Linked DNA regions of Homo sapiens. The protein of the gene in region 2 purifies or fractionates together with the protein of the main gene of each other region. This does not show direct contact. Each region holds a gene or a part of one and is shown on either strand. Other genes may lie near its edges.

Region 1 (5,726 bases), on a different chromosome or scaffold from region 2:
CACACTAAGGACACAGGTTGTTAGGGCTCCTGGATGAGGGTAAGTGTGTTTATTTTAAACCACGTGCTTTTGGCTATTGAGCTTATGATTTCAAAGGTGAAAGCTTAAGCACGTTATTAGACTTCTCAAGGAGAGTTCCCCTAGATTGGGAGAAAAGTTGACATTGGGTAATATTAAATCTTTCTTTTAAAACCAGGGCTATTTTGTTGTTGTTTACAATTTTAAGAGTCTAGACTGAAAGAGTCATGAAATGCAGCCACCTATCTGACCTCTTCCCCCAACAGTTAGGGAATTCGCTCTGCCCCCAGGCCACCCAACCTTCCCTTGCTCTCCTGAATGGGACCCTGACAATTCCCTGGAATTGTAACCTCTTCCTTACTGCTGAGGCTGAGAAGAGGATCTTTTCTACTTTACTCCATTTAGGGTTTTTCTTTATATCTGTGTAGATTGTGGCTTTTTGTTTTTTCTTTTTAATTTTATTTTAAAACAGGAAGAACAGTTATCTGATATTAAAAATCAAGGAAGCAATATTTGTATTGGTCACAATACGCTCAGACTAAAAGAATTATGCTGTAAGTAGTTGTATTGAAGAATATTTGAAGTGCTTTTAAACTATTTGTTTAAAACTATACCTATTTGTATAACGTGACCAGATCAAATTGATTGTATCTTTGGGTGGCACCAAATATGTTGGTTTCTTGCATGGATTGATTATTCTGAAGCTCATGATTTCTGTGGGTCTCAGGTGCGTGGAAGTTCCCATCTTAGTCCTTAAGACTCTTACCCCAATTGTAAGAGCTGAGGAATTCTGTGATAGCTATTAAGATAAGAGATATTCCTAAGAAGGAATATATTATTACAGAAATTTTCAAACATCAAAAAGGTTTGAAAGAATAATGTAACAAAGCCCCATGTACTTGCTTTAACTATTGTCAACGTATGTCCAATCTTGTTTCAAAGTCAGTCCTGGATGTATCATCCATAAGAAGTCTTCCTGAAGACATTCAAGAGGGAAGTCTTTGCTTTGGAACCCTGATGTGATCACGTTAATCATTGCTTCTATGCCTGTAGCTGAAGGAACCGCCAGCGTTTTCAGTCCTCTAATCCTTCTGCTTCCCTTTTCCAGGGCCCAGTCATATATGCACAGTTAGACCACTCCGGCGGACATCACAGTGACAAGATTAACAAGTCAGAGTCTGTGGTGTATGCGGATATCCGAAAGAATTAAGAGAATACCTAGAACATATCCTCAGCAAGAAACAAAACCAAACTGGACTCTCGTGCAGAAAATGTAGCCCATTACCACATGTAGCCTTGGAGACCCAGGCAAGGACAAGTACACGTGTACTCACAGAGGGAGAGAAAGATGTGTACAAAGGATATGTATAAATATTCTATTTAGTCATCCTGATATGAGGAGCCAGTGTTGCATGATGAAAAGATGGTATGATTCTACATATGTACCCATTGTCTTGCTGTTTTTGTACTTTCTTTTCAGGTCATTTACAATTGGGAGATTTCAGAAACATTCCTTTCACCATCATTTAGAAATGGTTTGCCTTAATGGAGACAATAGCAGATCCTGTAGTATTTCCAGTAGACATGGCCTTTTAATCTAAGGGCTTAAGACTGATTAGTCTTAGCATTTACTGTAGTTGGAGGATGGAGATGCTATGATGGAAGCATACCCAGGGTGGCCTTTAGCACAGTATCAGTACCATTTATTTGTCTGCCGCTTTTAAAAAATACCCATTGGCTATGCCACTTGAAAACAATTTGAGAAGTTTTTTTGAAGTTTTTCTCACTAAAATATGGGGCAATTGTTAGCCTTACATGTTGTGTAGACTTACTTTAAGTTTGCACCCTTGAAATGTGTCATATCAATTTCTGGATTCATAATAGCAAGATTAGCAAAGGATAAATGCCGAAGGTCACTTCATTCTGGACACAGTTGGATCAATACTGATTAAGTAGAAAATCCAAGCTTTGCTTGAGAACTTTTGTAACGTGGAGAGTAAAAAGTATCGGTTTTATTCTTTGCTGATGTCCTTTCTGCTTGAAATAACAGTCACCATACAGCTAAAGGAGAGGAGTTTCTTTCCTTCTAAGTAGGCAGAAATGGTATCATTATGTTGCCGCTCTCCAATCTCCCAGAGCTCGCTCTCTAGAGAATCACCTTCTTTCGCTTTTTTTTTTTTTTTTGAGGTAGAGTCTCACTATGTTGCCCAGACTAGCCTTGAACTCTTGGGCTCAAGTGATTCTCCCTCCTCAGCCTCCCGAGTAGCTGGAACGAACTATAGTTGCACCACTGCAGCTGGCAAGAATCACCTTCTTTATAAAGCGTCAGTCATGCTTCCAGCAAGAGGCAGCATCAGTCATGGCTTTATAACAGCTTCATGGTGCCTCAAAGACTGTTGAGGTTAATGAGAGCCTAGATTAGACAGTTTGGCTGTCCTTCCCTAAAACTTGTTTTCTCCTATTCACTACTCCCCACCGCACTTAAAATCTATGAGTTTTTACTTTTTACTGGGAATGGAAAGTGTGGTGAAGATCATTCAACACTTATGTTGTCATTTCTCCCATTTTCTGAATTTTTTTTTAAATTTCCCCCCTTTTAAAATTGTTCGAAAGCCCACAGTTATGGAAAGAATTACTGTCTAGATGGTCTGCAGAACGTGTTTGGGGTGAGTGGGAGTGAGGGGCAATGTTACTTTTTCTCCCTGTAGTTTGGAGTCCATTATGAGCTGCTGCTTTTTCTTCTCATCTTGTCATCTTCTGGGGATGTTTGAAGGCTGAGTTCCAACAGAATTCACAAAGGGAATAAAACAGGATTGAGATTTTGAGGTGTGCACAAGGTGGTAAGATAAAGGGCATATGAGCTTCAAAACTAATGCTGTTGCATACATGAAGCCTTTTGTTTTTTGAGGAGCTATTTTTGTTATTCTTGTAACGCTCCACCTTACATGCCACATCTGTGTGAGTCAACAGGGATCAGGTTTGGTCACCACACATGTCTGAAGCTGGGCAGCGTCTGCTCTGTGTTCTGTGTGGAATGGAGAAAAAAACGCCTGCCCTGCTGCCTTCCATGTTCATAGGCCCAGCCCAAGAGAGTGACACACAGTGCTGGCCCTGAGACATTTCCACAAAGTGGTCAACTCTGCCTTGCATCCTAAAACTTTTTGGGCATCTATTTTGAAAACTATAGGAGCCTTTGGAAGGCCTCTTATGTTTGGAGGGGAAGGGTGTTGAGATTGTCACCATCCTTCAAGCTGAGACTCCTGGTGAGCCTTTGCCACCATGAAAACCACATAGCTGACCAGGGCTGTGCTTGAGGTACAGAGGACACACATTGTAGACAGGCCTGTGTCATGTTTCCTTACAGTCGTTTTTTACAGAGAAAAGGGGCATTGTTTTTTCACTGCTTTCTCAACAGTTCCTGTGAATAAATGAAACATTTCGGAGCTCCCTGAGAGCAAGAGCCTTCACTTCTTCTTGCGGTGCCGGGACCATGTGTTGGTGAAGCTGGTGCTGTGGGGGCCACTCACTCGAATGACACCTGGAGGCCTGTTCCTCCCTTACCACTCCCTTCCCCAGCCCGACTTCTTGGCCTCCTGCCCAACCAGACACCTCAAACTCTGTCAGTGCCCTGGCATTCTGGCAGAGAATCCTCACCAGTTCTCACCAACCTTCCCCCCAGGCAAGGGCAGCTGCCAGCATGGTGCTCTGCCAGGACAGGTTTCCCTGAAGGAAGCTGCTCACACTGAGATGAGCCTCTCAGGGCAGGACCTCTTCCCAAGCCCTGCACACCCACCCCTGCAGCCCTTTTGGCTCCCCTTTTCCCTGTGCCTCAGCACTCCTTTCCTGGTTGCAGATAACGAACTAAGGTTGCCTAAAGGGCAGATCTGCCCTCTCCATGTCTTCGTCCTGGCAAACAGGGTCGTCTTAAAATTATGCGCTAATTCTGTATGGGAGCACTCAAAAGGCATTACTTAGAGATTGAAATTTCAAACTATCTCTAGTTTTTCAATGGAAATATATCAGCTAGGGAAAAACCATCAAGCTCATTATTATTTTTTGATCTTCAGTTGTATTTTTGTGAATATTTTAATACATCTTTTTCAATTTCTGAATTGTGTTGTGTGCTCATTTTGACCAGAATAGAAAAAGAGATATGCCTTTCACTCATATCATTCCAGCTACACCTGCCTTCTTTTCTTCAAAAATGCCGTCCGTGTGCCTGCTTCTGGGCCTTTGCACATGCTGTTCCCTGGGCCTGAAGCATGCCTTCTGCCAATATTCCTGTGGTTTGCTCTCTGACTTCCTTTAAGCCTCTGCTCAAATGTTACCTCCTCAGGGAGACCTTCTGTGATATATAAAAGAGCAAGCCCCCCACCCCACCGCCTCAGCCTTCCTGGCCCCCTCAGTTCTGCTCTAGTTACTCTATTTCTCTCCCTCTTTCCCAGTACACACTTGTCTGTTCTCCCGCATTAGAACATAGTTAACAAGAGACCAGAACCTTGCTGTTTTGTTCACTGCTCCGTCTGCAGTAAAGGGAACAGCACCTGGCACTTAGCTGCTCAATACATGTTACGTGGATGGATGAGTAGGTGGAAGCATTCATCCATTCAGCAACCTACACTGAGAACAATCCTGTGCCAAGCACTGTGCTAAGCATAAGGAAACAAAACAAGACAAAGCTCCTCAAGGAGCTTGCCACAGGGTGGAGGTGACAGGTGACATGAATGGAAGTAACTAGTAGTTACCAAATACTTGGTGTGAGCCAGGCACTTTGCATTTCTTTCTCTATTATTTCTGTGAGTTAACAGTAATTGTACTAATCTTAATCCCATTGTTTGAAAGATTATATGGCTTACCCAGGGCCACTTAGCTAATAAAGGAACAGAGAAGAGGGGCTGGGCCTGGGGCCGCTGTTTGATCCACAGCCTTGTTCCTAACCACTATGCCCTGTGGCCTCTCACACCAAAAGGAAGTACCAAACTGCTTCCTTACTCAAATAAATGTGCTGAAATGCAGTTGCAGTTTTCTCCCAGTCCCTTAGGAGCTGGTTAGAGAGTCCCTTAGGAACTTGAGAGGGTAGTGTAGTCTAGGTGGTAGGCACAGATGTCTGAGAGCTTTAACCTCAGTCTGGAAGACAATGTGGTGACTTAATTTGTTGAGAACTATGTTACAAATAATGTGTTACTAATAAAACATTGAGGCTTCGCAGTGACTTAGTAATTTTATAAATTACCATGGATTCACAATGAGCCCCTGCCTTGCATAACTTTGGGCTTGCAAAACCTAATGCGTTCTTGAGTGGGAGAAGATGAGTTACAGCTGGCAGGAACTCCCCTGGGAGTAATTCTCACATGTGAACAGCATCCATCTTGCGTGATGTGACAAAAAGAAAAGGGATGCTTCCTTCACCACACAAGGGCAGCAGTGAGTGATGGAATCACATTTTTGTCATCTCTGCAATTCCTTCCAAGTCAGCACTAAGTGTCGGAGGGCATCCACCTGCTGGGGCTCTGGTTTCCAAGCTACATAGGGGCCTTGCCAACCAAAGATGGACTTTTTATTTATGAGAGCAGCTTCCACCCCTGAGGGAGCTGAGTTGAGCAGTGTTTAGAGGAAACTCAGATACTCTCTCACCCCAGTTGGCTCCCTTCTGACCCCTCTGGGTAGTTCCTGTGCTAACTGGACTGGGGAACCACTGACTTCATCCT
Region 2 (9,585 bases):
ACTGAGTCAGGAGGCTCGCTTGAGCCAAAGAGTTCGGGAAGAGATCAGGAAGATGGCTTGAGCCAAGGCTGCAGTGGGTTATGATCATACCACTGCGTTCCAGCCTAGGTGACAAAGGGAGACCCTGTCTCTAAAACAAATAAAATAAATAAAAATGAAATAAAATTTTTATAATGTAGGTGAAGTTGCAGGATAATTGGTATGTGTGTCTACATTTATGTATACTGAAATTGCTATGTAAGTATGTGCAGCGTTGTCAAGGATGAATGCTTCATGAAGATGCACAAATATTAATACTGTTTGACTTTTAAACAAATCATTGGGGAAGAAATATACATGGAAATGCTTATTGTTATTTCACTTATAATGTTGAAGAAGTAGCAGTGGCTATGGCGGTAAAGAGAGATTTAAGTAGAATATAGACCCGTCAATTCAGTTGAACTTAGAAGTCTTTAAGTTTGTGTAGCAGTTTGGAAAAGAGTTTGTGAGAAAATGTGTGGCTATGCAGGGGTACGGATTGAGGAAGAAAACAAAGCTATGTTTACATAATGATTATATCTACATATAATTAGGTATACACAGGGATAAATATTGAAGAGGAATATATATGAAGGGTAGCAAATCCAAATATATTGAGAAGAGCTGGTGAGATTTTTTCTCTGCCTTCTTGTTATCAGAGATAAAGTAACTTTAAAAATGTTCTCTTTTGTTTCCTTAGGGCAAAGCTGTTGGGGTGACTATTGGCTGCATTCTAGGAATGTTTCCTTTAATTTTCTTTGGAGGAGGTGAAGAAGATGAAAAACTGGAAACGAAAAGTTAATCCTCTTAGAATACCTATAAAAAGATGTAAACTAATGTACCTCAGTAATTAAATATGCTGTCACAACATTTAGGAATTAAGACAGTAACAGTATAGATATGGGATCAAATAATTTAGCATGTATTATGGAAAACACTAACTTATTGTGGCTTGATCTTCTTAGGACATCTTTTTTAAAAAGCTGTTTAGTATCATTTTGTGTATATTGTTGAAATGCTTTTTCATCAATAGCAGTCAACATTTTATCCTTTCTTTTTATATTCATAATGTTATTTAAGTGTCATTGATGTACTGTATTGACTTGGGGTTTGCTTATTTGTTACTTAACATGTGTACATGCATGAAAGCATTTTTCGTTGTTCCCTGATAGTTACATTTCAACCTTGGGATTTTTCCAAATTACTTAAGATGTTTAATGTCAGTTAAAGATTTTTTTACCCTCTTTTTGGGAACATCAATTTTGTACTGTTATGCAGTAAACATTTATAATAATATAATTTCAGTCATTTCTTAACTGTCACATCTATTGAAAATGGATATAGATACAGGTTTTAAGTATTTTAAGTATATATTACTTATTTTAATTTTCTGACTTTACTATTTTAAGGGCCAGAGGGTTAATCACAAAGAGCAATTATGTGGTCTCCCTGCTACATGAAACCGTGTATACTAACAAGCGTACAATTTTTAGTTGATTTTTTTTAACCTTTTAGTTTCCCAGTTTTGAATAATTACATGGTGGATTCTGACTTTTGAGGGGAAGCAAATGATTATTTTAGAGTCTTTGAAATGGGGATTGTGGAATTAGATTGAACTAAGGGATTTAACATGATGCTTGGAAATTAAGAGACTAAAGCTTTTTTTAAAAAAAGGTGGAAAATAGGAACTGTCAAGAAGGTTTATGGTATAAATGATGAAGTTGAAGTGATGTTTGAAAGATTAATGAGATACAATTTATATTATTTGGTAAGGTTTTTTTTTTTCCCTCCAAAGATGTCATCTTCTCATCTGAATGGAATAAGTCTGAATACCCCATATTCATACTCCTAATCTCATTATATCTTATTTAGTGAATTTTATTTATGAATAATTTCTGTTGAAGTGAAAACTAGATATTTAATATTTTGCTTTTTTGCTACATAGTCTACTCAAAAATTACATGAGGAGAAATCCTTTTTCCCTTTGTTTTTCTTTTTTCTTCTTTTGTGGTATTTAAAGCATATTTTAGGTTGAAGTTACTTATTTCTAGTCTTGTACTTCTGGCTTAAGTATAACCATGTAAGAATTATAAATTTTAGTTTTCTGAACCCTTAAACTTTTTTAGCATGTGGTCTGTTACACATGCTAAAAAATTAGTCTTACTTGTAACAGCGTAATTAAACACATCATGGAGGAGAGAAACTTAAAATTAAAATAGTATTTTGGCTTTTGAAGTTATTTGTGTTGCTAAATAGATGCAGAGGTTTTACAGCAGTTTATTTTAAGGTTTTATTTATACATAATTACTTTGAACTCTTCAGAGTAGATATTTTTTCACAAGGCAGTTTGTCATAAATTCTCTCATGCGCTTCAGAATGCATAAGTGCCATCCTTTAATCATAGACTTTGAGGAGAGAAAGCATAAAAATATAGCATATAATCTAAAAATAAATATATAACATGCACAAATAATGTGACATTCTTACTGAATCAAATCATGATTCTAGAACTTGAGATCTTAAATAGAATTTCGGTTTGTATCTTCCATATAATAACCACACACAGATAACCACACAAAAAATCCTTTGTAAAATTTCTGATTGATAGGATTAGAGTGCTTAAATTTTTGGGGGGGGAAGGGTGGGGTAAAGTGTAAGTGCTTTCTTTTGTCCCTAACTTGTGTATTGATGGCAGTCCACTCTGTTTTCTAAAAATGTATTTTACTGTGGTGCTTAACTTCTTATTAATTAAATCCCGTATCAGAAACCTTGCCTGTGACTTTAGAAAGGGCTTTTGATTATTGTTTTTTCTTCTTGCTCTTGAAAGTAATCTGGTCCCAGGGAATTACTGGTTTAACTGAACATCTCCAGAATTATTTAAGGTGTCAAAATATATAACCTTCACATTGAAAGATAATTTTAATTTATGGGCATAATAAAAATTTGAATCATTCAGGTAATTTTCAAAAAATGGAGACCATTTGTCTTTAACTGAAGGTATATGTTTAAGATCATAGTCTACCCTAGTATGGTGCTTTGCCACAAAGTGATTTCTGAAGAATGGTTCTTTTTAAGATAATGACTTCATATGATCATTGTTTCATGTTACTTGCCACAAATAACTTTAATTTAGGTTGAAACTGGAACTGTTTGTTTCTCATATTAGCTACTTCTCTATTAGGAGCACAAGAACCATAGTTAAATGCAACATGAGCTACTTTAGTCCTGTTTGTTTAAATTTGTGTTGTCCATGTATTATGATTTATTAACTTGTTGATGCATGTAAATTGGGTGCATTTTGTTGCCATGTATGTTAAATGGTGACCAATGTTTTTACAAAGGAATTGAACAAAAAAAGTATCTTTTAAGAAATTTGGAATGTGGTTTTGATTTTGAAATTTGATTTCTTACTAATCTCAGAGGGCCTTGGTATATTCTGTTACTAAAGCAAACAGGATTAATGAATACGGATTTGTTACAAGGTGGCAGCAATGTCACTGAGATAGTGAATGGAACAATTTACCACCTCCCTGGAATCTGCACCTGAGATACAACATCAGCGTATGAGTGAAGAGTGAGCCCATAGAAAAGCTTTAGATAGACTCACATAAGTCACACTGATGGGTATTTACAGCAGATATATCCAAGCTGTTTATGTAATAGTCTCATTTACTTTATTCTTTTTCTCTAGAACATAAATTTTGAAGGTAATGGAAGTTTATCTTTTATACCAAAAGTTTGTATGAGCCATTTTGAAGTAAATCTTTCTAATTTTAGAATTATATTTTCTCGCCATCTTAAGACAGTATATTAAATATAATATAACCTTTTTCTTAGTGGCTAAGCATTATCTTTATGTATATTATTATTGTGTGGTAATGCAGTACCTTGAGAATCTAGTTTTTATAGTTTTCATTTTTTTTTCTGATCTTGCTTCTGGCAACTTTTATCTCTCTAATCTGCTTTTTTTCTCAGTTGTCTGGACTTAGAAACTGGTTAGCCTATCTTACCATAAATTATTTGGGAAATACTAAAAAATTGGCTTTGGATCCTGACTGAGATGATGATGATGATAGTAGTAGTAGTAATAATAATAGTTCCCTTTTATTAAACACTTATTTGGTCCTTTATGCACTAGTAATTTACACACATTATTGCATTTAATCACCTTAATGACAACATTAAGTTGGGGCTATTATCATTATCATCTCTATTTTCTCATAGCTAAATTGAGGCATGAAGAGGTTAGTTTGCCACTACGAATAAGTGGACTGGAATCCTATTTTGTCCAAGTATGAAGCCTGTCTTCTTAACTGCTAGGCAGTAGGGACATCAGTTGCATGGGCTTTGCAATGTCTGCTCTCTGCCTAGGTTCCTTTTTACCTCCAGATTCATGGAGTCATTTTCTTATCTATAATTTAAGAATATTGTGCTTACAATCCAAGATTCATTTAAGAAATCTTGTGTTCTTTATTACATACTATGTGCTAGGATGTTCAAGGCACTGAGTGAACAACCAGAACATCTGTACCCTCATGAAGCTTATTCTTTTGGGGTGGGTAGTAATAGGGGAAGAGAACACAGAAAAGCAAATATACTTTTTTTTGAGATGGAGTCTTGATGTCACCCAGGCTGGAGTGCAGTGGCGTGATCTTGGCTTATTGCAACCTCTGCTTCCTGGGTTCAAGTGATTCTCCTGCCTCAGCCTCCTGAGTAGCTGGGATTACAGTCACGTGCCACCGAGCCTAATTTTTTTGTATTTTTAGTAGAAACGGGGTTTCACCATGTTGGCCAGGCTGGCCTCAGACTCCTGACCTCCTGAGTAGCTGGGATTACAGGCACGTGCCACCGAGCCTAATTTTTTTGTATTTTTAGTAGAAACGGGGTTTCACCATGTTGGCCAGGCTGGCCTCAGACTCCTGACCTCAGGTGGTCCACCTGTCTCGGCCTCCCAAAGTGCTGGGATTACAGGCGTGAGCCCCTGCGCCCACCTGCAAATATACACTTAAATATTGTTTATGTCAGATGGTGGTAAGTTCTATAGAGATAAATGAAACAAGATAAAGAGGATAGAAAGTACCAGTGGTCATAAGTGAAGATGGTCAGTGAAGACCTGAAGGAAGCGAAGGTACAAACAGTACAGATATTCTGTGAAGAGAAAGTATCATGCTAGGTACTAGAAAGTTGGTGTTAAGAAAATCTCAGATATGTGAAATATGTTTCACTTTGGAATTCATTGTAAAATGTTTTCTTTTTGTTTCATATTACTAATAACTGCATTAAGCCTAAAGAGTAACAGTTAAATATTAAGATTAATACTTACTTCTTGCATGTTTACTGACAGCAGTAGGTGAAAATGGCACAGAAGTGTGGGGAAGCAACCCTAGAATTCAAAAAAGTCTGTAGATATTCCCATCAGCAAATCATTTACAGTTGACTCTTGAACAATGGAGGGATTAGGGACACCAACCCCCTGTGCTGCTGAAAATCTGAATACAACTTTTTACTCTCTCCAAACTTTACTTATAGCCTCCTATTGGCTGGAAGCCTTTCTGATAAATAAGCAGTAGATTAACACGTATTTTGTATGTTATATGTATCATATATTGTATTAAAATAAAGGTAGAAGAAAGAAAATGTTATTAAAATCATCAGGAAGAGAAAATACATTTACTATTCATTAAGTGGATCATGATAAAAGTCTTCATCCTCCTTGTCTTCATGTTGAGTAGGCTGAGGTGGAGGAGGAAGAGGAAGGATTGGTCTTGCTCTTAGTGGTAGCAGAGGTGCAAGGGGAAGCAGGAAAGGCAGGCACACTACGTGTAATTATGAAAATGCATTGTAACTTCTGTCTGATGTTTTGCTTTTTTTCATTTCTCAAAATATTTCTATATATGGTATTAATCCTTCTTCCACCATTTGCTTTAGTTTTAGTGCCTGTGTGATAGAAGGGTTCATGTTGTAAAATCAGTCTTGAATAATCAGAACACTTCTACCAGATTGTCTAATGTTGATTTGTTTTCTGGCACTGCTTCTAAATGTCTTCCTCCTCATTCTGTGGCACTGATTCAGAGGCACTCATCTCCAAAAGCTAAGCTTTTGAATTGCTTAGCTTTTGATTCACTCCAGGATTCAGATCTTGAAACTTTCTACCCTCCACCATTTATTTATTTATTTAATTTGACATATCTACAACCTCTTTCATGATTTTCTTGATTGGCTCTGTTGTAAATTCTGCGAAGTCACACACAACATCTGGTTGTTTTCCTCAGCAGGAATTTATTGTTTTGGGCTTGATGGCTTTCATGTCTTCTGTAGCAACAATGGCATCATCAGTGGTGGAATCCTTCCAGACTTTGATGATGTTCTCTTTGTTAGAGTTCTCTTGCATGGCACTGATGGTTCTTTGCATAGAGTACTGTGTGTAATGAGCCTATAGGTCCTTATGACTCCCTGATCTAGAAACTAAATTAGAGACATTGTGTTTGGGGGCAAATAGATCACTTCGATGCCTTTAGTATTGAACTCATGGAGTTCTGGGTGGGTGGCCAGGGGCATTGTCCAGTATCAAAACAACTTTAAAAGGCAGTCCTTTACTGGCAAGGTACTTCCTGACTTCAAAGACAAAACAGCAATGGAGCCAATCCAGAAAAAGGGTTCTTGTCGTCCAGGCCTTCTTGTTATACTGCCAGAAGACTGGCAGCTGGTGTTTATCTTTTCCCTTCAAGACTTGGGAGTTAACAGCTTTATAGATAAGTGCAGTCTTGATCATAAACCCAACAGCATTTGCAAAAACCCATAGCATTAGCCTGTCCCTTTCTGCCTTAAACCCTGGTGCTCACTTCTCTTCTTTACTAATAAATGTTCTTTGTGGCATATTATTATTTTTCCATAATAGGGCACTTCTGTCTGCCTTAAGAACCTGTTTTGGTAGATATGCTTTCTCCTCAATGATTTTCTTAATGGCATCTGGGAACTCATTTGCTGCCTCTTGGTCATCAGGAGCTGCCTCTTCTGTTATCTTAACATTTTTAAAGCCAAACTTCTTTCTAATATTATCAAGCCATCCTTTGCTGGCATTAAATTCTCTAGATTTAGATCCTTCACCTTCCTTTTGCTTTAAATTGTCATATAATGACCGCCTTTTCTCCAATCATATTAGAGCCTATAGGTACGTCTTTCTTGTAGCAATACTGCACCCACATAAAAGTTGCATTTTTAATACGAGATAAAAAGGTATATCACAAAAAGTGTAAGGTTTGCTGGTATAGATGCAGTAATGGCTTCATAAATTTTCTTAATTTTTTTTAACAGTGGTCCTTATGCTGGATTCATTTATCTTGAAGGATGGGCAACTACAGCTGCAGACCAGTACACATCAAGCAATTTAACTTTTTCTTGTAATGTCATGACTTTGCTCCTTGGGAGCACTTCCAGCGTCACTAGCGGGACTTCATATGGGTCCCTTGGTATTATTGCAAGGTTTATGGTTGTACTAAACATGATGAAAAATAACTGAGAACCATGAGAGATCACTTTTTACTACGATACACAATTTACTGGAGAGATGAACTGCCCATGTGGAGATGATAAACATCACATGGCATTTTAAGTGAATACAGCACTTGAGCTCACAGCAACAGCAACAGGAGGTAGCTCTGAAATTATGGTAGTAGTGCAGTATGTACTATAGTTAATCTTATCCAGTTGTAATTTAGTACTGCATCTTTATGTTTGTCTCAACTGCAAATGGCTCCAATGTATAGTCTGTGTATGCGTTAAGTTTTGATAAATTTTAACTTTTTTTTTTTTTGAGATGGAGTCTTGCTCTGTTGTCCAGGCTGGAGTGCAGTGGCACCATGCCGGCTCACTGCAACCTCTGTCTTCTGGGTTCAAGTGATTCTCCTGCCTCAGCCTCCCAAGTAGTTGGGATTACAGGCATGCATCCCCATGCCCAGCTAATTTTTGTATTTTTAGGAGAAACAGGGTTTCACCATGTTGGCCAGGCTGCTCTTGAACTCCTGACCTCAGGTGATCCGCCTGCCTCGGCCTCCTGAAGTGTTGGGATTACAGGCGTGAGCCACTGCGCCCGGCCAATTTTAACTTTTCATAATAGATTTGTATATATTTATGGTAGTAAATGATAAAATAGACTAGTGTCTACATATATTATATGAATTCATGACACACCTTTTTCTTAGTTTTTCAGTATTTCTAAGCTACATGGTGCATCTGCAAGTTTTTTAAATTGTTGCAAATTTCCAAAAAAATTTTCAATATATTTATCAAAATATGCATATAAGCGGTCCTATGCAGTTCAAACCCGTGTTTGAGAATCAACTTTATGACTTCCAGTGTCATTCTCCACCATTTCTGCAGTTTATCACATTTTGCTTCAGGCAGATTTGGTAAATCTTCAATGATAGTTCTCTAGGCCATTGTTTTGTAACATGATCAAATGCTTAATGGGAAATAGAATATGTATATGTATTCTTTGTCTACCAACTACCAAAGAAACAAATACTCCTCAGTTTGACTTGACTTAGTAAATAAACTTGTGTTGGGTTAATGGAGCTAATGGTTATTTTACTTTCTGCTGAATCTGTTCTCTAACCTTTTGCCCTGAGGATTAATATTAAGTATATTGATGTACAATTTTTAGAATGTGCCTGCCCCCTCTCTTCTTAACGTGACATTGCTTACCTAACTCTGGGCTTAATACTTTTACTATTCTCATATTTTATAAACAGAACAGTTTTGTGGTTATACTTCAAATTCTTTAGATATCATAAATCAATTATTTTAAACGTTTTGGCCTTAAGATCTTAACATTTAAGAACTTAACACTCAAGAACTTAATGCTCTGGAAAAATATTGATGTCCCCAAAGGGTGTTTTCTTTTTCTTGCTTTTAAAAAAGTTTGTATAAATTTAAGGGGTTTAAGTGCAGTTTTGTTACATGAGTATATTGCATAGCGGTGAAGCCTGGGCTTTTAATGTAACCATTACCTGATTAGTCTACATTGTACTCATTAAGTAATTTCTCATCCCTTATATGCCTGCCTTCCACCATCCCACCCTTCCAAGTCTCCAGTGTCCATCATTCCACACTCTATGTCCTTCTGTACACCTTATTTAGCTCCCACTTACAAGTGAGGACATACGGTATTTGACTTTCTGTTTCTGAGATGTTTCACTTAAGATAATGACCTCCAGCTCCATCCACATTGCTGCAAAAGGCATGATTTTATTATCTTTTATGGCTGAATACTGTCTCATATATATATAAATATAAAAAATATATATATATATATAAATGATGACACACATGCACACGCACACACACACACACTACATTTTCTTTATCCAGCTTCAGTTGATGGTCACTTAAGTCAATTCCCTATCTTTGCCATTGTGAATAGTGCTCCAATAGACATAAAAGTGTAGGTCTCTTTTTGATATAATGATTTCTTTTCCTTTGGGTATATACCCATTGGTGGGATTGCTGGATCAGACGGTAGTTCTGTTTTTTTTCCCCAAGTAACTTTTGTTTGTGAAGGTTTATATT

The links. Proteins that work in one complex are often made in the same cells at the same time.
Region 1: the proteins of TMEM65 (region 2) and MPZL1 purify together in Homo sapiens (affinity purification with mass spectrometry; 2 studies listed by BioGRID and IntAct, with this or other methods). This does not show direct contact.

What each region holds. Positions count from the first base shown.
Region 1 is NC_000001.11:167,786,694-167,792,419, forward strand, and holds the end of MPZL1 (myelin protein zero-like protein 1 isoform a precursor), read left to right. Parts: intron 1-1,126; coding exon 1,127-1,228; 3' UTR 1,229-5,226; downstream 5,227-5,726. UniProt on the Homo sapiens protein: Cell surface receptor, which is involved in signal transduction processes. Recruits PTPN11/SHP-2 to the cell membrane and is a putative substrate of PTPN11/SHP-2.
Region 2 is NC_000008.11:124,305,195-124,314,779, reverse strand, and holds the end of TMEM65 (transmembrane protein 65), read left to right. Parts: intron 1-718; coding exon 719-820; 3' UTR 821-8,591; downstream 8,592-9,585. UniProt on the Homo sapiens protein: Essential for maintaining proper cardiac intercalated disk (ICD) structure and function as well as cardiac conduction velocity in the heart.